7 linked regions of the Homo sapiens genome follow. The protein of the gene in region 6 purifies or fractionates together with the protein of the main gene of each other region. This does not show direct contact. Each region holds a gene or a part of one and is shown on either strand. Other genes may lie near its edges.

What was found.
Region 1: the proteins of CAPN12 (region 6) and ORC3 purify together in Homo sapiens (affinity purification with mass spectrometry; one large-scale study listed by BioGRID and IntAct). This does not show direct contact.
Region 2: the proteins of CAPN12 (region 6) and PPIL4 purify together in Homo sapiens (affinity purification with mass spectrometry; one large-scale study listed by BioGRID and IntAct). This does not show direct contact.
Region 3: the proteins of CAPN12 (region 6) and SPATS2 purify together in Homo sapiens (affinity purification with mass spectrometry; one large-scale study listed by BioGRID and IntAct). This does not show direct contact.
Region 4: the proteins of CAPN12 (region 6) and SPATS2L purify together in Homo sapiens (affinity purification with mass spectrometry; one large-scale study listed by BioGRID and IntAct). This does not show direct contact.
Region 5: the proteins of CAPN12 (region 6) and DHX40 purify together in Homo sapiens (affinity purification with mass spectrometry; one large-scale study listed by BioGRID and IntAct). This does not show direct contact.
Region 7: the proteins of CAPN12 (region 6) and KIF2A purify together in Homo sapiens (affinity purification with mass spectrometry; one large-scale study listed by BioGRID and IntAct). This does not show direct contact.

The regions. Positions count from the first base shown.
Region 1 is NC_000006.12:87,665,543-87,667,951, forward strand, and holds the end of ORC3 (origin recognition complex subunit 3), read left to right. Parts: intron 1-211; coding exon 212-291; intron 292-1,468; coding exon of another isoform or gene 1,469-1,475; coding exon 1,476-1,581; 3' UTR 1,582-1,909; downstream 1,910-2,409. UniProt on the Homo sapiens protein: Component of the origin recognition complex (ORC) that binds origins of replication. DNA-binding is ATP-dependent. The specific DNA sequences that define origins of replication have not been identified yet.
Region 2 is NC_000006.12:149,532,544-149,536,043, forward strand, and holds part of PPIL4 (peptidyl-prolyl cis-trans isomerase-like 4), read right to left. Parts: intron 3,196-3,500; coding exon 3,053-3,195; intron 2,232-3,052; coding exon 2,135-2,231; intron 1,032-2,134; coding exon 915-1,031; intron 1-914. UniProt on the Homo sapiens protein: PPIases accelerate the folding of proteins. It catalyzes the cis-trans isomerization of proline imidic peptide bonds in oligopeptides.
Region 3 is NC_000012.12:49,489,462-49,492,961, reverse strand, and holds part of SPATS2 (spermatogenesis-associated serine-rich protein 2), read right to left. Parts: intron 3,498-3,500; coding exon 3,389-3,497; intron 2,281-3,388; coding exon 2,231-2,280; intron 1-2,230.
Region 4 is NC_000002.12:200,305,383-200,309,492, forward strand, and holds the start of SPATS2L (SPATS2-like protein), read left to right. Parts: upstream 1-1,310; 5' UTR 1,311-1,540; intron 1,541-3,504; exon of another isoform or gene 3,505-3,690; coding exon of another isoform or gene 3,691-3,708; intron 3,709-4,110.
Region 5 is NC_000017.11:59,579,110-59,582,609, forward strand, and holds part of DHX40 (probable ATP-dependent RNA helicase DHX40), read left to right. Parts: intron 1-362; coding exon 363-449; intron 450-587; coding exon 588-770; intron 771-3,500. UniProt on the Homo sapiens protein: Probable ATP-dependent RNA helicase.
Region 6 is NC_000019.10:38,741,675-38,745,849, forward strand, and holds the start of CAPN12 (calpain-12), read right to left. Parts: upstream 2,801-4,175; 5' UTR 2,492-2,800; coding exon 2,255-2,491; intron 1,460-2,254; coding exon of another isoform or gene 1,429-1,459; coding exon 1,359-1,428; intron 855-1,358; coding exon 736-854; intron 237-735; coding exon 103-236; intron 1-102. UniProt on the Homo sapiens protein: Calcium-regulated non-lysosomal thiol-protease.
Region 7 is NC_000005.10:62,358,206-62,361,705, reverse strand, and holds part of KIF2A (kinesin-like protein KIF2A), read right to left. Parts: coding exon 3,407-3,500; intron 465-3,406; coding exon 374-464; intron 241-373; coding exon 177-240; intron 1-176. UniProt on the Homo sapiens protein: Plus end-directed microtubule-dependent motor required for normal brain development. May regulate microtubule dynamics during axonal growth. Required for normal progression through mitosis. Required for normal congress of chromosomes at the metaphase plate.

The sequences.
Region 1 (2,409 bases), on a different chromosome or scaffold from region 6:
TAGTTCTCTGAAACAAGATTATTCAGGAACCATTACTTTATCTTTTAATATATAAGTGGTTTAAAGTGATCATCAGTGTAGTTTTGACAATCTTAAATTTGATATAATGAAGAATATGTGCCAGCTATCAACAGCCATTAAAAGAAGTATAGTAAAAGATGTTTGGCAACTGTAGACATTTTTATTTTCTTCTGTCTTGTCTATTCAAAAGGCTTTTGCAACAGTTGTGACAGCTGCTGAAAAAATGGATGCAAATTCTGCAACCTCAGAAGAAATGAATGAAATTATCCAGTATCCTTTTAAAACCATTTCTACAATGTCCAACTACACATAAAATATAAGTTTATAATTTCTCCAGGTCTACACTAGATATTTATAAAGGCGTACTCCAAACAACCGTATTACTTGTTAATATTAACCATATGGTGCTAGAATAACTGAAATTTCTGAATCTTTATTTTGAATTTAATCCAAAATGAGACCAAACCTAAAACTTTTGGTATCAAATTTATATCAAGATTATATTTTAAAATTTACCAAAAATGAAACTGCCATTATTGAATTCTCTTTTTTTGGTTTTTGTTTTTTTTGTTTGTTTGTTTGTTTTTGAGACGGAGTCTCGTCTATCGCCCAAGCTGGAGTGCAGTAGTGCGATCTTGGCTGACTGCAACGTCCGCCTCCTGGGTTCAAGCAATTCTCCTGCCTCAGCCTCCCAAGTAGCTGGGATTACAGGTGCCTGCCACCAAGCCCAGCTAATTTTTGTATTTTTAGTAGAGACGGGGTTTCACCATGTTGGCCAGGCTGGTCTCGAACTCCTGACCTTGTGATCCGCCCGCCTTGGCCTCCCAAAGTGCTAGGATTATAGGTGTGAGCCACCTCACCCGGCCTAATTCTTTTTTTTTTTTTTTTTTTTGAGACAGAGTTTTGCTATTGTTGCCCAAGCTGGAGTGCAGTGGCACGATCTCGGCTCACCGCAACCTCCACCTCCCGGGTTCAAGCGATTCTCCTGCCTCAGCTTCCCAAATAGCTGGGATTACAGGCGCCTGCCACCATGCCTGGCTAATTTTTGTATTTTTAGGGGAGATGGGATTTCACCATGTTGGCCAGGCTGGTCTTGAACTCCTGACCTTAGGTGATCTGCCTGCCTCGGCCTCCCAAAGTGCTGGGATTACAGGTGTGAGCCACTGACCTGGTCTGAATTCTCTATTTTTCTAATGTACGTTTAGAAGTGGGGGCGGGGAGCAATTTCCATACTATGTAGAACATTAGATTTAGGAAGCATTAAGTACTTTTCCATTTATGTTTTATTGATAGTGGATTCTAATTAATGTTTTCCAGTAACAGTTATAGTTTAATTTAGGAGTTTATATCTGAACTATCTACTTCATTTTACCAACTAGTATTTTAACATTGAGATTTTAATCCCTTTTTGTCAAAAATACAGCACGGCCAGTTTCCTTAATTAAAGCCTCCAGTGCTCGGTTTATTAGAGCTGTTTCTGAACTAGAACTTTTAGGATTTATAAAACCTACCAAACAGAAGACTGACCATGTGGCAAGACTAACATGGGGAGGCTGCTAGAAAGCAAATAAGCAAAGCCAGAACTATCACATTTAGCTTAAGAGAAAAAGGTGACCAGTCATATTTACATATATTAGAGGAGCCTGTTTTGTTGAGAAGATAAATGTGTAACCCCCATTGATGTTTAACCAGAAAAGTACATTGCTAACCCCAAACAGGCATGTATCAAAACACCTGTGGAGTACTTTAGACTCCAACAAATAATAATGTAACTAAAACTGCTCACACATTTTACTGTACTTTCCAAAGTCATTACTAAATTGTGAGTAAATCATTCTTGAACTTAGAGTATGTAAATGTAATAAATTCCGTTATCCAGGAGTATAAATTATTTGCAGTTGCTTTAGCAATCCTCATTCCTCCTCTCCCAATTCCCTGCATTGGCATTCCTCACTTTAGTGTAGTAGGCAGTAAGTAACATGAATATCTTACAGGTTGTTTCTCCTGGTGACTACATAGGTTCCAAAACTGTCTCTGCCTCTCCATTTCCTGTAGTCTTACAACTTTAAAGAAAAAAAAAAAAGGCCAGGCGTGGTGGCTCACACCTGTAATCCCAGCACTTTGAGAGGCCAAGGCGGGTGGATCACAAGGGCAGGAGATCGAGACCATCCTGGCCAACAAGGTGAAACCCCATCTCTCCTAAGAAATACAAAAAATTAGCCAGGTGTGGTGGCACATGCCTGTAGTCCCAGCTACTCGGGAGCCTGAGGCAGGGGAATTGCTCGAACCCGGGAGGCGGAGGTTGCAGTGAACTGAGATCGGCCACTGCACTCCAGCCTGGGTGACAGAGTGAGACTCCGTGTCAAAAAAAAAAGTCCCAAACTGTTT
Region 2 (3,500 bases), on a different chromosome or scaffold from region 6:
CAGTAAAGCTTTCTTGAACTATACAGCCTTTACTATTTGTTCATTCAGACAGTTGATGGTAATATAAACTTAAGCCTGGCCAACATAGGGAGATCCTGTCTCTACAAAAAAAATTTTAAAATTAGCAGGGCATTGTGGTGTGTGACTGTGGTCTCAGCAACTCAGGAGGCTGAGGCAAGGGCATTGCTTAAGCTGAGGAGTTGGAAGCTGCAGCAAGCTATGATCATACACCACTGTACTCCAGCCTGAACAACAGAGTGAGACCCTGTCTCTATAAAATAATAAATAAATAAACTTTAAAACAGACTACAAATCTGAAAGTTCTATTATATAAAATAGTAACTTTATTATCCATTCATTCCAATATTTATTATCTATGATATGACAGGTATGCCTATTCTACAAAAATAAGAAATGGAAAATAATACCAAGTAGGTCAATTAATCATCTACTGAATTATTATTCCCCAAATGACTTCAGGTTGTTAGTAATACAGAGAAGCAGTATATTTTAGAGTGCTCAGTTTCCACCCATTATTTTGCCCTACAACTACCATTCTGTTTAATCTTAACACTTGAGTGGTACAGTGAAGAACTATTCTTTAATATACATAAAATTCAGCCTGCTAAACACTCTTTAAGAATGAGATGAATATTAAACAACTGAAATTCAATTAATAAGTTAGAGATCCACTTCCCACTGTTTAAAAAGGCACTTAGCACTATATTGACAGTAGAGTCAAATTTATTTTCACAGTAGAGCCAATTTATTACTATGCCATACCAAATTTAAATCAGAAAAAAATCATAACTCAATTTTTAACATTTTAAGACTACTGAAGAGCCAGAAATAAACACTCAGTAAGTATTATTAGATATATTACAGAACAATTTGAACAAAGATAATTATCTTACCATCTCCAAAAGTATAGCCTGAGTTTTAGCCTCTTTTTCTGCCTTTATTTCTTCTACTTCCTCAGCTGATCTTCCTTTGAAATCATCAATTTCTTCATCTGCTCCTATTCGACCACTCTGTTAAGACAGAAGTTACTCATGTATATATTTAAAGAATAAAAAAATCTGAGAAACATAGAAGACATACTTTATTCTTAGTTATATCAAACATGCTAAAACAGTAACTGATCAAGGTTGCAGTGAGCTACAATCACACCACTGCACTCCAGCTGGGTGACACAGTGAGATCTTGTCTCTAAAAAAAAATTTTTAATAATTAATTGGACAGCAACTGAGACAAACTTATAAACCTCCAAGAATTGATTTATATTAATTCTAAAATATTAGCCAAAGTGGGCTTCTGTTAAAATCAAAATAGGCCAGGCATGGTGGCTCGTGCCTGTAATCCCAGCACTTTGGGAGAACACGCAGGTGGATCACTTGAGGTCAGGAGTTCGAGACCAGCCTGGCCAACACAGTGAAACCCTGTCTCTACTAAAAATACAAAAATTAGCTGGGCGTGGTGGCATGCACCTACAATCCCAGCAACTCAAGAGGCTGAGGCACGAGAATTGCTTGAATGAGGAAGGCAGAGGCCACAATGAGCCGAGATCCCACCACGCACTCCAGCCTAGGCAACAAAGTGAGACTCCATCTCAAAAAAATAAATAAATATTTATATGGACACTATTTATTATCCAATTCTAACTGCTGAATGAAGAGAAATGATCTGACAATTAAGCACCAATCCCAACCATAAAGACAAATTCAGCTTTCAGGAAGCCACATAAACCTTAAAATATGTGGGGGAACAGTCTGCGCTGTTTCACAGAAATTTCTGGGTTCTAGCCTGGCTCCAGAGTGTCCCCAGTTGAAAAGTTACCTCACAAGATAACAGTTTAATTTGATGACAAGAAAAACACTTTCCCAAGGTGTTCATGTAAGCTTCTAGAGCTGAGGTTGTCTCAGTAGAAAAGAAACTGAAGAAAGGAAATTAGAGAAATGAGAAGACAGCTAGAAAAATGAGTACCTCTGTGGAAAAGAAAAAGAACTCCAAACTTGTTGAATATAATTAAGCAAGATAATAATTCGGAAAAAATTAACTTTAACAGATGAAAAAGATAAATCCATACAAATCATTAATATGAATGTACATTTAATCATAAGAGGGCTTTACTTACATCTAATTGTTCCCTTGTAGGTTCTGGTGATCGATCAGGGATTAATAAATCAGGAGGGTCATCAAATGGATCATCTAAAATCACCGTATGATTTATCCTTACAAAATAAATCCAAATCAAATGTTATACATTGAAGTTATTTCAGAATCCTATTTTATTTTAATAGATTACAAAAAATTACTTGATTATCTCTAAGGCCAAAAAAAACCCATATTGCATATGGATATTACTAACCTAGATATACTTTCACAATGAGTGTTACTGTTTTGCATTGAGTGATACCATATTTATCACCCTGCATTACTTTAAGATGTAAACTAATATAACTGTCTAAATCTTAGTACTTTTGCCCTACTTCTCAATTAAAAAACTAAATTAAAGCATTAACAATTCCTCCAGCTGGGTGCAGTGGCTCATTCCTGTAATCCCAACACTTCAGGAGGCTGAGGTGGGTGGATCATGAGGTCAGGAGATCGTGACCATCCTGGCTAACATGGTGAAACCCCGTCTCTACTAAAAATACAAAAAATTAGCCAGGTGTGGTGGCGGGCGCCTGTAGTCCTAGCTACTTGGGAGGCTAAGGCAGGAGAATGGTGTGAACCCGGGAGACAGAGCTTGCAGTGAGCCAAGATCGCGCCACTGCACTCCAGCCTGGGCAACAGCATGAGACTCCGTCTCAAAAAATAAATAAATAAATAATTCCTCCAAACATAATTATAAATAATTAGTACAAGTATAAAAATACAAAAAGTCCTTTTTATTATAAAGATTCTTACAGTCTTATATTAATTCACCTTTTGGGATTAGAATTATCCAGAAACCAGTCCTATGCATACCGTTCCTATCCATACCACTACGTGTTAAACATCTCAATATTAAAACATTCTAGTACATTCAGATAGCAAATTGTAACCATACCTGATATCCTGATATGGTACAAAGTCCTTGTCAACAAAGGTCTCATTAATTTTCTTAATTATGTCCATGCCTTCTGTCACCTCACCAAACACCGTATGGACACCATCAAGATAATCTAGATTTTCTCCTGTGGTGATAAGAAACTATAAAGAAGGACACATAATAAATACCATAAAAATAATACATAACTCAAACTGAAATCAGTTACAGACTGACAAAAAAATACATGAAAGTTAAGAGTCCACATTTACTGCACCAATTCTTAGACACTTGTTACCAAAACTAAGTAAAAAGTACAAAGCTTATACTGGCATACCTCATTTTATTGCACTTTGCAGATACTGCATTTTTTACAATTAAGGATTTCTGGCAACCGTGTATTGAGTAAGTCTATTGGTGCCATTTTCCCAACAGCATAGGCTCACTTCATGTTTCTGGCTCACATTTT
Region 3 (3,500 bases), on a different chromosome or scaffold from region 6:
CACACCCAGCTAATTTTTTTGTATTTTTAGTAGAGATAGGGTTTCACCATGTTGGCCAGGCTGGTCTCAATCCCCTGACCTCCAGTGATCCACCTGCCTCGACCTCCCAAAATGCTGGAATTACAGGCATGAACCACCGTGCCCGGCCTCATCTTTCTTTTTCTTACTTTCCCCCATGTGAACTGGCTAAGTTTTCATATCATTGGGTCATGTATATCATAACTATCCCACTCAGAGTCACATCCTATTGGACTAATCCCAACAGTTAAGTGGACTGGACTGGATTTGTGCATTTGGGACTGCTAAACTGAAGTCATATTTCTTTCTCCAAATTTTAAGGAATGTCTGTGTCTCTAACACACATCCTCTTCCAGGTCCATGCACATCTTATATCACTAGTAACTTATAATCCTGGGCTAATAAATTAAGAAACTGGTGTTAGCTGGGTGCAGTGGCTCATGCCTGTAATTCCAGCACTTTGGGAGGCCAAGGTGCGCAGATCACTTGGGGTCAGGCGTTCGACACCAGCCTAGCCAACATGGTGAAACCCTGTCTCTACTAAAAAATACAAATATTAGCCAGGCGCAGTGGCACGCACCTGTAGTCCCGCCCTACGTAGGAGGCTGAGGCATGAGAATTACTTGAACCCAGGAGGCGGAGGCTGCAGTGAGCCGAGATCGCGCCACGGCACTCCAGCCTGGGCGACAGAGCAAAACTCCATCTCAAAAAGAAAAAAAAAAAAGAAAAAAGAAAAAAAAGAAACTGGTGTTTTCCAGGACACTCACAGTTATCTATGTAACAGGTTGAAAGCAGCAGGAAGAAGTTAAACAAATATTCAAAACTACAGGTATGAAGAGCTTCAGAAGAATCTGTGTAGTATTAGGTAACCCTTGGAAAAAATTCTCAAGCGTCACTGAGGCCAAGCCTGGTTTTTGTTCAAGACCTGACAGGACTCCTAAAAAGTGATGTAAGAGTCATGATGAAAGCATTTCAGAACTCCAGCACTGACTTAATAAAGAAAAGAACACCCCAAACAGATTTCACAGAGATACTTGATTAAAATCCATACTTCAAGCATTTCCTAAAGGGGTTACCTTTACAGTGCAGAGCTGTGGGAAGAATTTTGAGACCAGCTGGTATCCTTTGGGAAAAGCATCTGATTTTAAGTAAATAAGGAGAAAGGAACGAGAACTAATATGTTAGGCGTTGTATTATGTATTTGTATTTATTAGAACTATTTTTCTATTTTAGAGATGAGCAAACTAAGGCACAAATGTTAAGCAATATCAGTCACAATGCCAGTAGATAGTGGAACAGGGTAGGAATCCAGTTCTGACTGATCCCATAGCCTGAGTGCTTTCTACCTCTCAAAGTGGAACATCAGACCCCTCTGCAAGGCACCTAATAGCCTTTTTTTTGAGATCAGGTTTCATCATGTTGCCCAGACTTGAACTCCTGGGCGCAAGTGATCCTCCCACCTCAGCCTCCCAAAGTGCTGGGATTACAGGCATGAGTCACCGTGCCTGGCCAGCACCTAACAGCTTTATGTCAAAGCTCATTAATATCAGGACTACAACCCAGTTGCCCGACCAAAAATCTGAACTGTTTTAACTGATTTATGGTATGAATATGGTTGAAAACCACTCAATTAGATCGCTTTCTCTTGCTTTCCTTGATTTGCTGTCTTTTTCACCCGTCTAATAACTGCACCATGGCAAAGTCATTCTGTTTCCTGCCTTAAATCACACGGAGAGGACTGTGTGGTACTCTGTGAGACACAGCTATGTTTCAAGGTCGAAGAATTTTTTTTTTTTTTTTGAGATGGAGTCTCACTCTGTCACCCAGGCTGGAATGCAGTGGCCCAATCTCGGCTCACTGCAACCTCTGCCTCTTGGGTTCAAGTTATTCTCCTGCCTCACCCTCCTGAGTAACTGGGATTACAGGCACGTGCCACCACACCTGGCTAATTTTTTCTATTTTTTAGTAGAGACGGGACTTCACCATGTTGGCCGGGCTAGTCTTGAACCACTGACCTCAAGTGATCCACCTGCCTTGGCCTCCTAAAGTGCTGGGATTACAGGTGTGAGCCCCTGCACCTGGCCAAAGATGTTTTTTAACCAGGTAAACAGAAGATATGTATGTGAACCTTTTCTTTCAAATATTTTTGCAGAGCCTAAATTTTTAAAAATAATATACACATCATCATGCTTTTAAATGTAATTCATTTTACCTTTTTCTTGCCTGTTACTGTCCATTCTTTGAGTACTTCACTGGCACTACCTGTAAGAGAAACCAATTACAGATTTTGTCTCCTACCACACACACAGTAGTCAAGCAGGAGTCAGTGTCCTCCCATTTTGTAATTGCTGGAGAATTTACAAAGCTCCTAACAGAAAAGTTAAAGTTAAGGATCAGGTCTAAAGTAATGTAATGAGATAATCATGCCATGCTTCCCTTTTGGAATACCTGCCTACTTAGACCCCTCCTCTCCGAGTAATTTCCTCAGTAAGTTCTTCTAAGAAGAGACTAATGTAGCTGGGCCATTTTGAAGATTCTCTTATCCATACATCTTAGACCAAATACAAAGGGGATGGCACACTGGTTTTAGCCAAGTGTGCCATCCTTTCCCCTCCAGTTACACACCCACCTTGGCTATGTTGTTTTGGAGACAGCTGCACATTACCCTAGACCAAAACACTAACATTATTTTTTAAAAAGATGAAGATAAAGAAAAACTTTACAACATTCAAACTTGTGCATCCTATGTTGGCAGATTCAGGAAAATAAAAACAGGGAGACCTAACCTCATGTTGCTATTCAAAGACGCAATAGCTTCAGATAGTTTTTCTCCAACAGGTTACATGGAAGGAAGGTTCATAAAACACTTCTCAATGTTATAAATCTGAAGGGTTGACTAAGCCTGCCATTCTTCTACGTATTAGATAAGGAAATTCAAACCCACACATTTGAGTCACTTGCCACAGCCAAACTAACGATATTAGAATCCGGAAGACAATACTGAGTCCTTGAATTTGCCATCTGTTGGTGAGCCACTGAATCACTGCTTTGTTATTAAGAGTCTCTTAAATTCTTATTCAACCCAAGTCCAATCAAGTCCCTTATACCACTGGCCACATGATTTCCTCTTAAATACCATTAGAGAACATTTAGCGTGAAACAATGGAGTTTTCTCAGCTTATCTCTTATTATAGACACCACATAGCTTATTTCAGCTGAAAGAGGTATCGTCAAATGTCATGGTATGTTATGTTTTCATGGGGTCTGCTCTATCATCTATGAATCACTGGATTGCTGAATGTTATAAAAGTCTGAAGCAAATTCTATTTGAGCAAATATAAATTTATTTTTAAAATTAAGTCAGGATTACCTTCCATGAATGCTTGTACTGTTTTGTCCACACAGTTATCAAAGTGCTGCAAAACCAGGATAATTTCATTGTTGCTCTTATTAGGAACTATTGCACGTACCGCATTTATCTG
Region 4 (4,110 bases), on a different chromosome or scaffold from region 6:
GGGGTTCTTCCAAGGATTAAATGAGCTAGTACTTATAAAGCACTTGCTAATGTCTGTTAAATAAATTATATTATCCACACACCAATCCAAGGCGACTATAAGGTAGCAAGAACCACTCCAAGTCACATAAGAAAATGAATTCCTTTCGTTTTAGCTCCTCTCTTTATTTCAGCAGTGCGTTGTCAACAGGGCCACATTATGTTAGCAGATTTGAACTTTATCCGAAAGGTGTTTGTATTTTATTTCAAATTATGAATTCCTGAACATCGGATTATGTACGATTCTGCAGTGCCCTCGGAGGCCCATTAGAGTCTGGAGCTCGAGAAGCATAACAAACTCTGGTCTGATATTTGTAAGGAGCTTGACAGCCAAGGAGCCACTCAGAAACAGTTATTGGTATTGCCAAAAAAAAAAAAAAAAAAGGAAGCTAAGAAGTCACCCTTCTAAATAAATAAATAAATAAATAAATAAATAAAAACCTGAATTGGAGAGCTGCCTGCATTTCACTCTACTGCCTCTGGAAGAAGAGTGTTATCTAAAGTGCTTCCATCATGAATAATGATTGAGAAACTGCTTTTACTCTCCCGACTACTGTACTCCCAGGCAGAAACCCACGGCTGAAGCCCACGATGCCCATGTGTAACTTGGTTATTACACACACGTTTGGAGCCCAGTGTGCAGACCCGCAGCGCAGAGGAGGCGGCGGAACACCCCGGGTTGGTCGGGTTTCCAAGGGCTGACCCGAGCTCCAGCACTTTTTCCGCGCCTGATTTTTCAGGTCATTTTCGAATGGGCTATCTTTGCTTACATTTTGAGCTTGGATCCTCTCCAGAAAGCATTACTACCTTCTAAAAGGAAAAACATCTCGTATTTGCAGACAGTGCTGAGGGAGCAAAGTTCATTTTCTCGGGTAGGAGAAGATGATTCTCTTGCAACACGTGCGGATTGTGACAAAATCTTTCATTAACAAGGGGAGTTTCGGTGAAGTGGAGGTTTGGGGAAAGGCGAGGAAGTCGGTCTGGAGCAAGCAAGCAAAGTGCGGAAGCTGTACTGGGATTCTTCTAGAAAGTGGGGTGGGAAAGGAGCTAGGGAGGGCGTGTGGAGGGACGAGATCTGTGTCAGAACGTGCGTGTGAGCGGATACAAAACCCGAGAGAGGCGTGAGCAGCGCTGTGTTTGCGAGCGGGAGCGAGGGGCGCCGGCTGGGGTGTGTGCTCCTGGTGAGTGACACCGAGGGGAAGGCGGGCGGGTCGGCGGGCGGGGGCAGCCTGCGAGGGGCGGGAGTGTCCCTGCGTGGGGCGGCCGAGCCGGAGTTGTGTCAGTGAAGGAATCCAGTCCGGGGGCCGAGCTGGCTGCGCCCTCCGCTGCAAGCGCCGGCAGCGCGGGGCGAGCTCCGGACGGCGCGCGGCCCAGGCAGCGGCTCCCGCTCGGCCCGCCCTCCGAGCCGCAGGGGCCGCCACCGCCGCGGCGCCTCCCCTGGCGACCGCGCCCCCGGGCCCCGGCTCCGGCCCGGGACGGAGGAGCCGGCGCTCGACACAGAGGTAAGCCCAGGACCCCCTCCACGCCGGGCCGGCTGGGGATGCAGGGCGCGGGCGGACGCGGAGGGGCCTGCGCGGCCGGGACGGAGACTCGGCTGGGCCGAGCATTCCGCAGCCCGGGCCGCCCAGCCTCCGCCGCCTCCCGGAGCGCTGGGTGTGGCCCGCGCTCGGCGCCGAGGCGGGCTGGTGGCGCGGACCGGACGCGAAGGTCGCCGTCCTTCCTTTCTCCAGCCGGCGCGGGCAAGCGGGAGGAGGCGCCGGCTGGGACGCACAGTGGCGCTCCCCGGGCGAGCGTGTGGCCGCCGCGCTCCGACGTGTACCCGCCCGCCCCGGATCTGAATCGCCCGCGGCCGCCGTCCCTCGCCTGCCGTCCTCCCGCGCGGGCGCCCCCGTTCCCTCCCAAGCCGGAAAGAGACCCACCGTCCCCCAGGCTGCTCTCTGGCCCGGAGCCGCAAAGCCCACGTCAGCCGCGACCACCCCGCCCTCGGATCCCAGCCGGGTGCGGGGGCCGCGGCCCCACTGAACCCCGCGCCCCTGGCGCCCAGCGGGAGTGGGATGCGTTGGCGTCCGCGCTGCGCGGGTGGGCTGGGGTGGCCGGAGCAGACGCGGAGCGCCCTGGCCGCGGGACGAAGCGGTCGCGCCGCCGCATTTGGGCGGGGGGACCCCGGAGTCCGCGGGCTGCGGACCCCAGCGGGAGACGGGGTTGTCGTAGGATGCGCTCGCGCTGGACGCCGGCGCACTCTGAATATCATGCTGCCGCACACGCGGGGCTGAAGGGCCGAGTCTTCACCTGCGCGGGGATGCGGCGGAAGCGTCGCGTCTTCGCGAGTGGAGGTTTCGTGTTCCCGCGGGGTTGGTGTGTTTTTGAACTTCACGAGCTTCTCATCCCCCCCGCAATCCTGGTTTTAGCAGATGTCGGGGTTTTGGAGACCTGACACTTTTCGTGAAAGATTCTTTCTGTACGTTTTCTTTTGGCTATATTACAGGGTTTGTAGCTTGAGAACTAGTGAAAACCCTTGAACTTCAAACACAGTCTCATTGCTTATTTTTTGAAATTTAAATATTAAAATATGTACCAGCCCCCTCACAAGCCGACAGACTTTAAGACAAACGACTGTGAAATTTTAGAACCTGTGCAGAGAAAGTGGTTTTATACCAGTACTTGAAATAGTAAGGTCGTGTAACCTTTTTAACATCGTTTTAGTTTGTCTTAAAGGAAGGTTTCAGCACCACTTTGACTGGTACTGTTTTCCAGAGTTTAAGCAGATGTATGTAATATAGCAGGGAAGAGGACAGGAAGTCAGAAATCTCTTCACTCTGAAAAAAAAAAAAGACTTCAAATAATACAACCAATACCCTGAAAATAGAGTGGCCGTCTGGATAAAGTATTTGATAGGCCTTATGAAATTGTGTTGCTTAACCAGAAAGCAATGTGTTGTTAGATAGGGCAGTTTTATCTAGTAACTGTCGTGTTTAAAAATATCTGTGTATGATATTCTTTGTTGAATTTTAACTGGGGAAAAATCAACTTTGGGAATGGGTTTCTATTTGGACAAGGCAAATACTGCAGTTTCTAATTAGAGTTTTGGAATAAGCTCAAGCTGTGTTAAAACCTATTGTATGGAGCAGCAGAACAGAAAACATGTCAAATCTGTATCTGTGTGGCAGAAAACATGTCAAATTCTGTATCTGTGTGGCTTTAAATACACACACACACACACACAGACACACAAACTAGAGACTAGCCCCAAAAGATAATTTGCATAAAAATACAATCACTTGAATGCAGAGAATAGCTAAAGACGTTAGTAAAAACTGAACATCTGGGAAAAGACTGTATTAATTGGCAATTTTCTTTCTTTAATCCCTGAAAATATTAAATGATTTTCTAAGAATCAACTTAGTTTAATGTGCTCATTTAGACAGGCAAAATGATCAAGACTCCTTTTGTATTCATTTTGTTTTAGGGAGCCCCCTAATGAAAGTCTTCAGTAAATAGTTTTTCTGCATGCACTGATTTTCCTGAGGCCATTGTGGAGAGAGTTATCTGTGGGCTTGAGAAGCTGCTCTGCCACACCAGTAAGGATCAGGGAAAGAAAATACTTAGGCCACACCGTTGCAGTCTTTGATTGCATGCCAGTCTGAAGCATTTTATGGACCCGTTTTGCCATGTAAGTGGTAAGCTTTTACATCAGAAGTTAAGCTTTAGAAATATCTCACTTTGGGGCCTAATTTTTGTGAGTTTCTCAGTCTGCGATCAGAGTTGTGTTATCAATCACAGTGAATGTTCGTGAATGGTTGTGTGTTGAAAGGGCATAGGTGGTCTTCATTCTATTACTTTACACAGTTTTAATCAGCATTTTCTGAGGTGAGCCAGGACAAGAACTTCTGGTTACAGTTTGGATAGGATGGAAAAAGTTGTGGTTGCTCTTCGTAAGATCTAAGCTGCTACTACCTGTCCCACTGTATGACAAGAGTGGAATGCATTTTATGTGCACTTGACAGGTACTGCTTAGTCACTGCTTCATAGTACTTCTTTCCTAGCCATCTTCTGTAGCACTTTTACTGTCATT
Region 5 (3,500 bases), on a different chromosome or scaffold from region 6:
TGTTTTTACCTTATGGCTGTGATTCATAGTGCTGATATGAACATTGGTCTATAAGTATTTGTTTGAGTACTTGTTCTCAGTTCTTTTTGGTGTACACTTAGAAATGGAATTGCTGGATCATATGGTAATTTTGTGTTTAACTTCTTGAGGACCTCCGAACAATTTTCCACCTCGGCTGAACCATTTTACATTCCCACCAACAACATACGAGGGTTCCAATTTCTTGACTTTCAAGTTTTACACTTAACATAAAAGGCATTGTGTACCTGCTAGTTTGCTAGAAAAGGAGAAACCAAAGTGGTTAACAATTAACAAGTCTTCTTTTATTTTCCAGAAACTTAACTTGCTTTGATTCTTCTTAGATATGTGGTAGATGGTGGCTTCGTGAAGCAGTTAAATCACAACCCCAGATTAGGGTTGGACATCCTGGAGGTGGTTCCAATTTCAAAGTAAGTCTCTATGTCAAATCTTTTTATTCAAAGAACAACTGATTAGGTAATTTCTAGCTGTTTTGGGGAGACAAAGTAAATTACCTGAGAAACCCACAGAACATTTTGGGGAATTTTTGGGTTTTTTTCCTTTTGTAGGAGCGAGGCATTACAGCGAAGTGGCCGAGCTGGCAGGACTTCTTCAGGAAAATGCTTTCGGATCTATAGTAAAGATTTTTGGAACCAGTGTATGCCTGACCATGTGATCCCTGAAATTAAGAGAACTAGTTTGACATCTGTAGTTCTGACCTTAAAGTGCCTTGCCATACACGATGTCATAAGGTATGTAGACAACTAGAAAAAAAAGGAAAAACTTGTTAGCCTGGAACCAAGTTATTGGCTCAAAAATTATTTTGAAATATTTGACTGATACATCCCTGAGAGTTGAGGCTAACCTCTTTTACAGGTTGGTTTTTATATTGGTTGCTTTTCTTTTCTTTTTTTTTTTTTTTTTTTTTTTTTGAGATGGAGTCTTGTTCCGTTGCCCAGGCTGGAGAGCAGTGGCACGATCACGGCTCACTGCAACCTCCGCCTCCCGGGTTCAAGCAATTCTCCTGTCTCAGCCTCCCGAGTAGCTGGGACTACAGGTACCTGCCACCATGCCCAGCTAATTTTTGTATTTTTAGTAGAGATGGAGTTTCACCTTGTTGGTCAGGCTGGTCTCGAACTCCTGACCTCAGGCGATCCACCCACCTCGGCCTCCCAAAATGCTGGGATTACAGGTGTGAGCCACTGTGCCTGGCTCTATTGGTTGCTTTTCAACTAAACTAACACAGAAGACTTCCTTGCATTGCTTTAGTAGGATCTCTTGCTCATGTTTAACCTTGGCTTAATGGCGGGGTTAGGGGGTTGTGCTGATGTTTATGTGGATCACTTAGTGACCACTGTTTATTTGTAATGAAAGGTATATAATGAGCTGGGCATAACAGCTTATGCCTGTAATCTCAGCACTTTGGATGGCCAAGGTGGGAGGGTTGCTTGAGCCTAGGATTTCGAGACAAGCCTGGGCAACATAGTGAGACCTTGTCTCTACAATTAAAAAAAAAAAAAAGTCTGATATGGTGCATGCTTGAGTCCCAGATATTTGGAGGCTGAGACGGGAAGATTGCTGGAGCCGGGCAGGTAGAGGCTGCAGTGAGCCATGATTGCACCACTGCGGTCCAGCCTGGGCAACAGAGTGAGACCCTGTTTCAAAAGAAGGGGGCTGGGCGTGGTGGCTCACGTCTGTAATCCTAGCACTTTGGGAGGCCAAAGTGGGCGGATCCCTTGAGGCCAGGAGTTTGAGACCCGCCTGGCCATCCTGGCAAAACCCCGTAGCTACTGAAAATATAAAAATTAGCTGAGCTTGGTGGCACGTGATTGTAGTCCCAGCTACTCCGGAGGCTGAAGCACGAGAATCACTTGAACCCAGGAGGCAGAGACTGCAACGTGCCAAGATCACACCACTGCACTCCAGCCTGGTCAACAGAGCGAGATTCTGTCTCAAAAAAAACAAAACAAAACAAAAGGGTATACAGTTGGAAAGTGGAGTGTTTTTTTTGTATGGCCAGCATCATACTATATACCATGAAAGACAGAGTAATACTCTGTAGTTTTTTGCTTTCACTAAGCTTAAGTTATATTAGGAAAACAAGGTTCAGACACGTGAAATAAAGGAAGAACAGTTAAATTAGCCAAATATTAATATAATTTATTGGTATAAGATAGAATATTGTTATAGATAGAAATTTCTATCATACATGGTAGGGGAATTAATGGAGGAAAGTACTATCTTCTTTATTTTGGTCTTAATTGCCTTGGAATGTAAAACTGCTCAGGAATTTTGGGGGATGGTAACCGTGCAGTTTTTAAATTCATAGTAAGTGATTATTAGGTGCATCCAAATATGTATTGTAGGCCGGGTGCGGTGGCTCACGCCTGTAATCCCAGCACTTTGGGAGGCCGAGACGGGTGGATCACCTGAGGTCAACCTGGCCAACATGGTGTAACCCTGTCTCTATTAAAAATACAAAATTAGCCAGGATGGTGGTGCTCGTCTGTGATCCCAGCTACTTGAAAGCCTGAGGCAGGAGAATTACTTGAACCCGGGAGGCAGAGGTTGCAGTGAGCCGAGATTGCGCCATCGCACTCCAGCCTGGGCAACAAGAGCGAAACTCTGTCTCCAAAAAAAAAAAAAAACCAAAAAAAGCAAAAAAAAACCCCAAAACCCACAAATACTCATTGTATACTCTTGGAAAGCCAATTTGCCAATTTCAAAATGTTTTGATAGTTATCATTAGATTAGAGATTTTCTGAATGAGAATATGTAGATACTGGAAAGAGAAAAGCATGTAATAAATGAAATTCTGACTGTAGCAATAAATTATACCAATGAAAAGAAGGAAAGCGCCATTTAAAGAAATCCAAAGAGCCCAATAGAAAACTTTCAGATGAACCCAGATATTAAAATAATGTCTTGATTTTTTTCATTTGGGGAAAAAGGGCCATTTTTGGAAATAGCTGCTCAGTAAGTTTGACATTGACTCTTAGTATATTCACAAAGGATAGCAGAGCAGCCTCTAACCAAGAATGAGTATATATTAGAAAAATAGGAACAATAATTAATATCATCTGCATTGAATTATTTTTCCATCTTAAGTCTTAAAAGCCATAGTGTACTAAAAATCGCAAAATTATGTTTCAAAATGCTTGAAACAAAAAACAAAGACTTCCTTTTTAAAAAGTTGTATAAAGAATAAGGAGAGGTAGAGCCAGTGTTTGGGGTAGATGGTATAGGATTCATAGACGACAGAAAGAAAATGGATCTTCTCAATTATTATTTTGCTTTCCCTTTCTTTTCCATCAGGAAGAATAATTTTAAAGCTGAAAATGCAAGAACAGGTCTGAATAAGAAGGAATTGATGACTAAGGTGGAAGGAAATAATGAGGGAAAACCTACCACCATAAGTGATTTTGTCTTGAGCATTTAGACATTATTTCCGTGGTGTTAAAAGAACTTGCAGATTTAGCGTC
Region 6 (4,175 bases):
TGTTTGGAGGATTGCAGAGCTTGGGGGACTCTGGGTCCCCCTGTGGCTTGATGCCTGCTGTGGGGACTTAGGGCTGCAGCTGGTTGGAACTGGGGTCCTCACTTGGCGTAGGCCTTCTCCAGGAGTGGGGCCCAGAACTCATTCCGCTGTTCCGAGCGCACGAACATCAGCTTCCCCTCACGCACGGGCAGCCTGTCATCCACCACGACGTCCATCCAGCGGCCAAACTGCCAGAGCTGGTGGGAGAAGATGCAGGGCCGGACTCGGCTTCCAACCTCCAACCCTGCCTGGGCCCTGCCTCTGCTGTGCCAGTCCCAGAGTCAGGAATTACAGCCCCAAGTCAACGTTAACTATGAAATCCATATGGCTGGCCGGGTGCGGTGGCTCACATCTGTAATCCCAGCACTTTGGGAGGCCGAGGCGGATGGATCACGAGGTCAGGAATTCGAGACCAGCCTGGCTAAGATGGTGAAATACCATCTCTACTAAAAATAAGAAAAAATTAGCTGGGCATGATGGCGGGTGCCTGTAATCCCAGCTACTCAGGAGGCTGAGGCAGAGAATTGCTTGAACCTGGGGGCGGGGCGAAGGTTGCAGTGAGCCGAGATTGTGCCACTGCACTCCAGCCTGGATGACAGAGTGAGATTCCATCTCAAAAAAAAAAAAAAAGAAAAATCCATATCACCAAGTCACCATGGGGGAAACGGAGGCATGGGCAGAGGAACTGAGCTGTACCTGGAAGTGGAAGACGCCTGCGTAGCCATGCTGGAAATCCTGTCCAGGAGGGACCACCCGGCGCAGGAGCCGGGGATACAGAGTAAGGGAGGCGGCAGCTGCAAGGAACCAGCAGTTACCTGGGAGGAGAGGCCAGGATTAGGTGAGGATGGAAGGAGGGAGGCCTGGTGCGGTGGCTCATGCCTCTAATCCCAGCACTTTGGGAGGCCAAGGCAGAAAGATCACGTGAGCCTAGGAGTTCAAGACCAGCCTGGCCAACATGGCAAGACTCCACTACAAGAAAATTTAAAAATTAGCTGGGCATGGTGGCATGCACCTGTAGTCCCAGCTACTTGGGAGGCTGAGGCAGGAAGATTGCTTGAGTCCAGGAGGTTAAGGCTGCAGTGAGCTATGATGGTGCCACTGTATTCCAGAATGGGTGACAGAGTGAGACCCCATCTCAAAAAAAAAAAAAAAAAAAAAAGGAAGGAAGGAAGGAGGGAGGAGGGAGAGAGAGGCCTAGGGAGAGAAGAGACTGAGGAGGGATCCAGGGGCCGGGAGTGGGTGGACAAAGGGATGGAGCTGTCAGGATCTCAGCTGAAACTAGCTGGATCTGAGGACTCCAGGTGGGTTCAGGGTCTCACCCAGGCTCCCCTGACACACGTCTGTGCGGCTCATGTCTTCACAGATGAACTTCGGCTCAGCACAGAACTCCTGTGGGTGGTGGGGGATTCCAGGCCTCAGCCTGAGAAAGCGAGGAAAGGTCTCATCCAGAGGAGTGAGGGCCTCCAAGCCCATGAAAGGCCTGGAAGCCTGTGGGCAGGAGCATGGCTTCCCTGGGTCTCCAGAAGTTGTGCTGAGCCAGTCCCATGGTAGCCCCCTCCTCCCTCAGACCCGGGAGTCCAGGCCCAGCCCCTCCTCCCTCAGACCCAGGAGTCCATGTCCCGAGCCCCTCCTCCCTCAGACCCAGGAGTCCAGGCCCAGCCCCTCCTCCCTCAGACCCAGGAGTCCAGGTCCCGAGCCCCTCCTCCCTCAGACCCAGGAGTCCAGGCCCAGCCCCTCCTCCCTCAGACCCAGGAGTCCAGGTCCCGAGCCCCTCCTCCCTCAGACCCAAGAATCCAGGTCCCCAGCCCCTCCTCCCTCAGACCCAGGAGTCCAGGTCCAGCCCCTCCTCCCTCAGACCCCGGAGTCCAGGTCCCCAGCCCCCTCTTCCCTCAGACCCAGGTGTCCAGGCCTTGGCCTCTCCTCCCTCAGATCCAGAAGTCCAGGTCCAAGCCCCCTCCTCCCTCAGACCCAGGAGTCCAGGTCCCCAGCCCCTCCTCCCTCAGACCCAAGAGTCCAGGCCCAGCCCTTCCTCCCTCAGACCCAGGAGTCCAGGCCCAGCCCCTCCTCCCTCAGACCTAAGAGTCCAGGTCTCGAGCCCCTCCTCCCTCAGACCAGGGAGTCCAGGCCCCCAGCCTTCCTTCCTCAGACCCAGGAGTCCATGCCTCCAGCCCCTCCTCCCTCAGACCCCAGAGCCCAGACCCCAGCCACACTTTACATGGGGCCTCATCCATTTCACGCCTTTGGCCTTCTCCGAGTCCGGCCCCAGCTGGTCATAGCCAAGGGCATCAGGGCCAGCAGGGAAGTAAGGGTCGCGGAACAGGATCCCCGAATCCAGGCAGGCTGCCCGAATTGCCTCATAGCTCTGGCCCCGAAAAAGCTGCAGGCGCCCGGCTCCGACCCCAGCCTCCTCATCCACGAGCTGGATGGTGACCCTCCCACTGCTGGATGCCATCTGGACACTGGCCTCACAAGCCGGCACCAGGCCCTTTAACCTCCTGAGTCACGGGGGCGGGGCCTCTCTTCCATTGGAGCCCCAGTGGGGTCTTTAGGCAATGAGGAGCCTTCCCTCGTTAATATTAATTGATGGTTTGGGGTGCTGGGGAGCAGGGACGCCTCTTCAGTAGCTTTCTTCCCAGGGCGTGGGGCCTTCAGTTGTGGCCAAGGTAGCAGCTTAATGGGCTTGGCCAGCAGCAGGAGAGAAGGCGGGCAGAGCTGAGGGAGGACCGGCTGCCGCTGTCAGAGCACCAAGAAGGAGGTCAGTGTGGGGGTGAGCTTCTGCCTACTTATGCCTGTGGGGCTGGGGAAGGAGGCGGGTTTACCTCGGTGTCTCTATCTCTCAGACTGCCTCTCTCCCCCTCCCTCTGACAGTTTCTCTCTCCCCGCCTTCATGTTTCTTCTCCATCAGTTTCTGGAGTGCAGTGGCACGATCTCAGCTCACTGCAACCTCCGCCTTCTAGGTTCAAGTGATTCTCCTGCCTCAGCCTCCCAAGTAGCTGGGATTACAGGCTCGTGTCACCATGCCCAGCTAATTTTTGTATTTTTTGTTAGAGAAGGGATTTTACCATGTTGACCAGGCTGGTCTTGAACTCCTGGCCTCAAGCAATCCGCCCACCTTGGCCTCCCAAAGTGCTGGGATTACAGACGTGAGCCACTGTGCCTGGTCAGGTTTTGTTAATTAAAAAAAATTTTTTTTAAAGTAGAGACAGAGGGGTGGCGGGGGGCGGTCCCATATGTTCCCCAGGCTGGTCTTGAACTGCTGGCCTCAAGTGATCCTCCTGCTTCAGCAGCCTCCCAGAGAGCTGGGATTACAGATGTGAGCTACTGTGCCTGGCCCTTTCTTGTTTTTTGTTTCTGGCAATATTTGTGTCTCTGTATTTCCCCAACTCCACCCCTCTCCCCACCCCACCCTCTTTTTTTTTTTTTTTTTTTTTTTGTAGAGATGGGGCGGGGATCTCACTTTGTTGCCCAGACTGGTCTCGAACTCCTGGGCTCAAGTGATCCTCCCCGCTTGGCCTCCCAAAGTGTTGGGATTACAGGCGTGAATCACTATGCCTGTCCCCTCTCTCTTTGTGTCTCTTTCAGCGTGTGTCTGTTCCTCTCTGTACCTGTCAGACCCAGGAGTCCAGGCCCCCAGCCCCTCCTCCTTCAGACCCTGTCAGTGTACCTTGTGTCTGCCTCCCTGTCTCTTCCTCTCCATCTTTCTGTCTGTCCCTGTAACCCATATGTGGCTCCTCCATCATCCACCGAGGGACCCTGAGCTCCCCTCCGCTCACGCCCCCTAAGCCCTCAGGATGCGCCTCCTCCCCTCCCGGACAAGGTAGACTCAGCCTGCTTGCCCAGGGAGGCTGACCCTGGAGGGATGGCTCTGTACCTCTCCTGTGCTGGGAGCCATCTGGTGACCATGATGCCCTGCCCTGGCCCACGCCACTCAGAGTCTGGATGGAGCAGTATTTCCCCCAAAGGACTCTGGAGCCATTGGAGGAAATGGGAGAAACAGGTACGGAGATGCCAGAGCCTCAGCAGTGCTGGTCCCAGCAGACCTTCCACCCTCGTTGAGGGTGTCTGCTGCCCTCCCAGAGCCTTGTCACCTCCACGCCACTCAGATGTCCCTCAAGCCTTTTGGCCTTCTTCCCTCC
Region 7 (3,500 bases), on a different chromosome or scaffold from region 6:
ATTGTGAATATATAATCTTATAGTTCTTTTCAAGCAATCTAATAACCTATAATTGACATAATAGACAGTTAATATAGCATTATAGTTGCTGAACAATATTTTAAAGCCTTATTTCAAAGTTACCTGAATAATACCACAGAAGAATATTCCAAATTTTATGGAAAAAGGACAGTTACCTGCTAATGCATAAATTCCTTTAGAACAATCTTGGTTCTTTCCTGAAAAGTCACCACCCATAGTCTATATTTTAAAAAGAAAATAAAGAACAGACATTACTCAGGAATAACTCTTAAGAATTTAGTTCACAGAATTAAGCTATAAGGAAAAGAAACTGTAGCTTCGTACCAGAATGTAACTTTAATAAATTACTTACATGAGTTTTTCCACTTCCAGTCTGCCCATAAGCAAAGCATGTAGCCATTCCCCTTTCAAATATAGTTTCCACTAGTGGTCTAGCAGTAAACCTTAAAAATAAAATGCATCAGTCAGAATGTGTCACCAATATTTTGATGAATAATAGTAATGCTGAGTAATACAAAGTATTTTATTAATAAATAAAACTTAATAGCAAGATTCTAAACAAATCTTTGTTAAAAATTTTAAATAACAATATCGAAGAATTGATTTAAGAATTTTAAATATCATATGCTAAAATTACTTAAACTACTTAAAGCATAATTTCAAGCAATATTTCCATAATAAATAATGGTCACAATAAGGCATATACAATAAAAACAAACACAAAGTATTATAATTTCAACAGAAACAGAATAAACAAGAGTGGTAATCTCAATTTTAAAAAGTTAATAGAGGAAAAAAACTGCAAAAATATTATCTATAGACCATCTAAATAAATAGAAAAATGTTGATTACCTTGAATTTAGACAAGTAATTTATACTTAAGCAAAAAGAATATAAATTGTGCTTGTAGGAAAATGAATTCTATTAGTAAGTTGACACTCTCAATTTAGGAAAAGGATACCTAAATATTATGGTTTGAATTACATTTTTTTTTTTTTGAGACGAAGTCTCGTTCTCGTCCCCCAGGCTGGAGTGCAAATGGCGCGATCTCAGCTCACTGCAACCTCCGCCTCCCGGGTTCAAGTGATTCTCCTGCCTCAGCCTCCCGAGTAGCTGGGATTACAGGCACCTGCCACCACACCCAGCTAATTTCTGTATTTTTAGTAGAGACGTGGTTTCACCACGTTGGTCAGGCTGGTCTCAAACTCCTGACCACAGGCGATCTGCCCGCCTTGGCCTCCCAAAGTGCTGGGATTACAGGCATGAGCCACCGCACCCGGCCTTGAATTATATTTCAAATGTATTGGTATAACCCACTGCTAGAGTTAAAATAAAAAGGTGGGAAGGTATAAGAAGTACTTTTCCCCTGAGCAGTACACTAAAAAGTATGATGGAGGCCAGGCGTGGTGGCTCATGCCTGTAATCCCAACACTTTGGGAGGCTGAGGTGGGTGGATCACTTGAGGTCAGGAGTTCGAGACCGGCCTGACCAACATGGTGAAACCCCGTCTCTACTAAAAATACAAAATTAGCTGAACGTGGTGGCACACGCCTGTAATCCCAGCTACTCAGGAGGCTGAGGCAGGAGAATCGCTTGAACTGGGAGGCAGAGGTTGCAGTGAGCCGAGATCATGCCACTGCACTCCAGCCTGGGCGACAAGAGCAAAACTCAGCCTCAAAAAAACAAAAAAAAAAAAAGATGGAAAACAGATCTACAAGTAGAACATTTTATATAACTGCTGTCTTTGTTTTGTTTTGTAAAAGGCAAAACTGAAGAAAGTACAGAACAAAAGGAGCAGGAAAAAGTTCTGGTCAAACAGAACTAGGGATGAGCCTGCTAAGTAGATCAAACCCCTACCTCCCAACCCTACCCACAAAAAAACATGTAACTCCTCAATCCATAATAGTTAAGTATAAGAGATAGAGGAGAAGGATAAATATTGATAAAGTTAAGAAACATAAACATAGGGTAAAAACACAATGTTTACTAAATCATACACACAGAAACATGCCTGTATTTGTAATAATTTCTTAAAAACTATTATAAAAGTCAAACTTATATTTTATGAGGCAGGAGTAGAAAGAGGGAATGAAAAGGAAAAGTGGACTCTTCAGAAAGCTAAAAAAAAATTCTACAATTAACAATTATGATTCCCCTTTAAACATATTCTTCACAAATATCTCTATCTAGTATTCATATGTCCTTTAATTTGATCCTTTTTTTTTTTACAACTGACTACCCAGTACACTTGGTGAAGACAAAAAGAGTTGGTCTCAAAAGTATTTCCTTTGTAACACCTTCAATTCTTAGTCTCATTAACTCTAATTTTTTCCTTTCTAGGCATTTTTATGAAAAAGGGCAATCAGATATAGTATTCAAGCAATTACAAAGACAGTAATATTCCTAGATAAACCAAAATAACAATACTGCTAAAACTGGTGTTATAATTATTAGAAATGAATGTTTGCAAACTTACGTATGAAAATCTAAATCTGGCATAAAAATTTGAGATACCAATGTATAACACAGATAAATTTGAATTATTTTTAAGTTGAATACAGAAAACATACAAGAATCTCATGTACTAAAACTATCTCCAAGCTTAAAGATGACAAATTTAAATACAAGTACGGAACTTTTTCGCCTTAAGTGACAATACATACTAAATACAGATTTAGATAAATTAATAATTAACTGATAACAGGTATTTTGGCCAGGCATAACAGTGGCTCATGCCTGTAATCCCAGCACTTTGGGAAGCCAAGGCGGGCAGATCACTTGAGCTCAGGAGTCTGAGGTTAGCCTGGGCAACATGGCGAAACCTCAACTCTACAAAAAGTACAAAAATTAGCTGGGTGTGGTGGTGCATGCCTGTGGTCCCAGCTACTCAGGAGGCTGAGATGGGAGGATCACCTGAGCCTGGAAGGTCGAGGCTGCAGTGAGCTGTGATCGTGCCACTGCACTCCAGCCTGGGCAACAGAGCAAGACCATGCCTCAAACAAACATTTCAAGTTTCTTTATTAGTACAGAGATTAAAAGGTAAAAATTAAAAGTCTTCTTATCATATCCTATTCCTAGAGGTAATGTTAACATTTTCCCGAAATTTCTTATCCATATACATGGTTTGTGTGATATGTATATATATGTATATATATGTGTAATAAGCTAATTAGCAAATAGTAATGGAAACTATGATTTTGGGGAGCATTACAGAGAACAAGTGTTAATATTCATTACAGCATTTATTACATTCTCTTTGTTTAAACTCAGAATAAAACAGCATATTGCACCTCTTAAGAAATATCCCACAATCAATGTAAATTTCAAGGTGCTGATGACCACATGGCATAAGAACAAAATTCTGATTTAAAATGAATTTACCTACCTGTAAACCATTTCATTAGGAGCTGAGTCATCAAAGGCATAATCAAAACGAAATGTTTGGTTTTCTAGGTACCTTGTTAAATCTACTTTTTGTT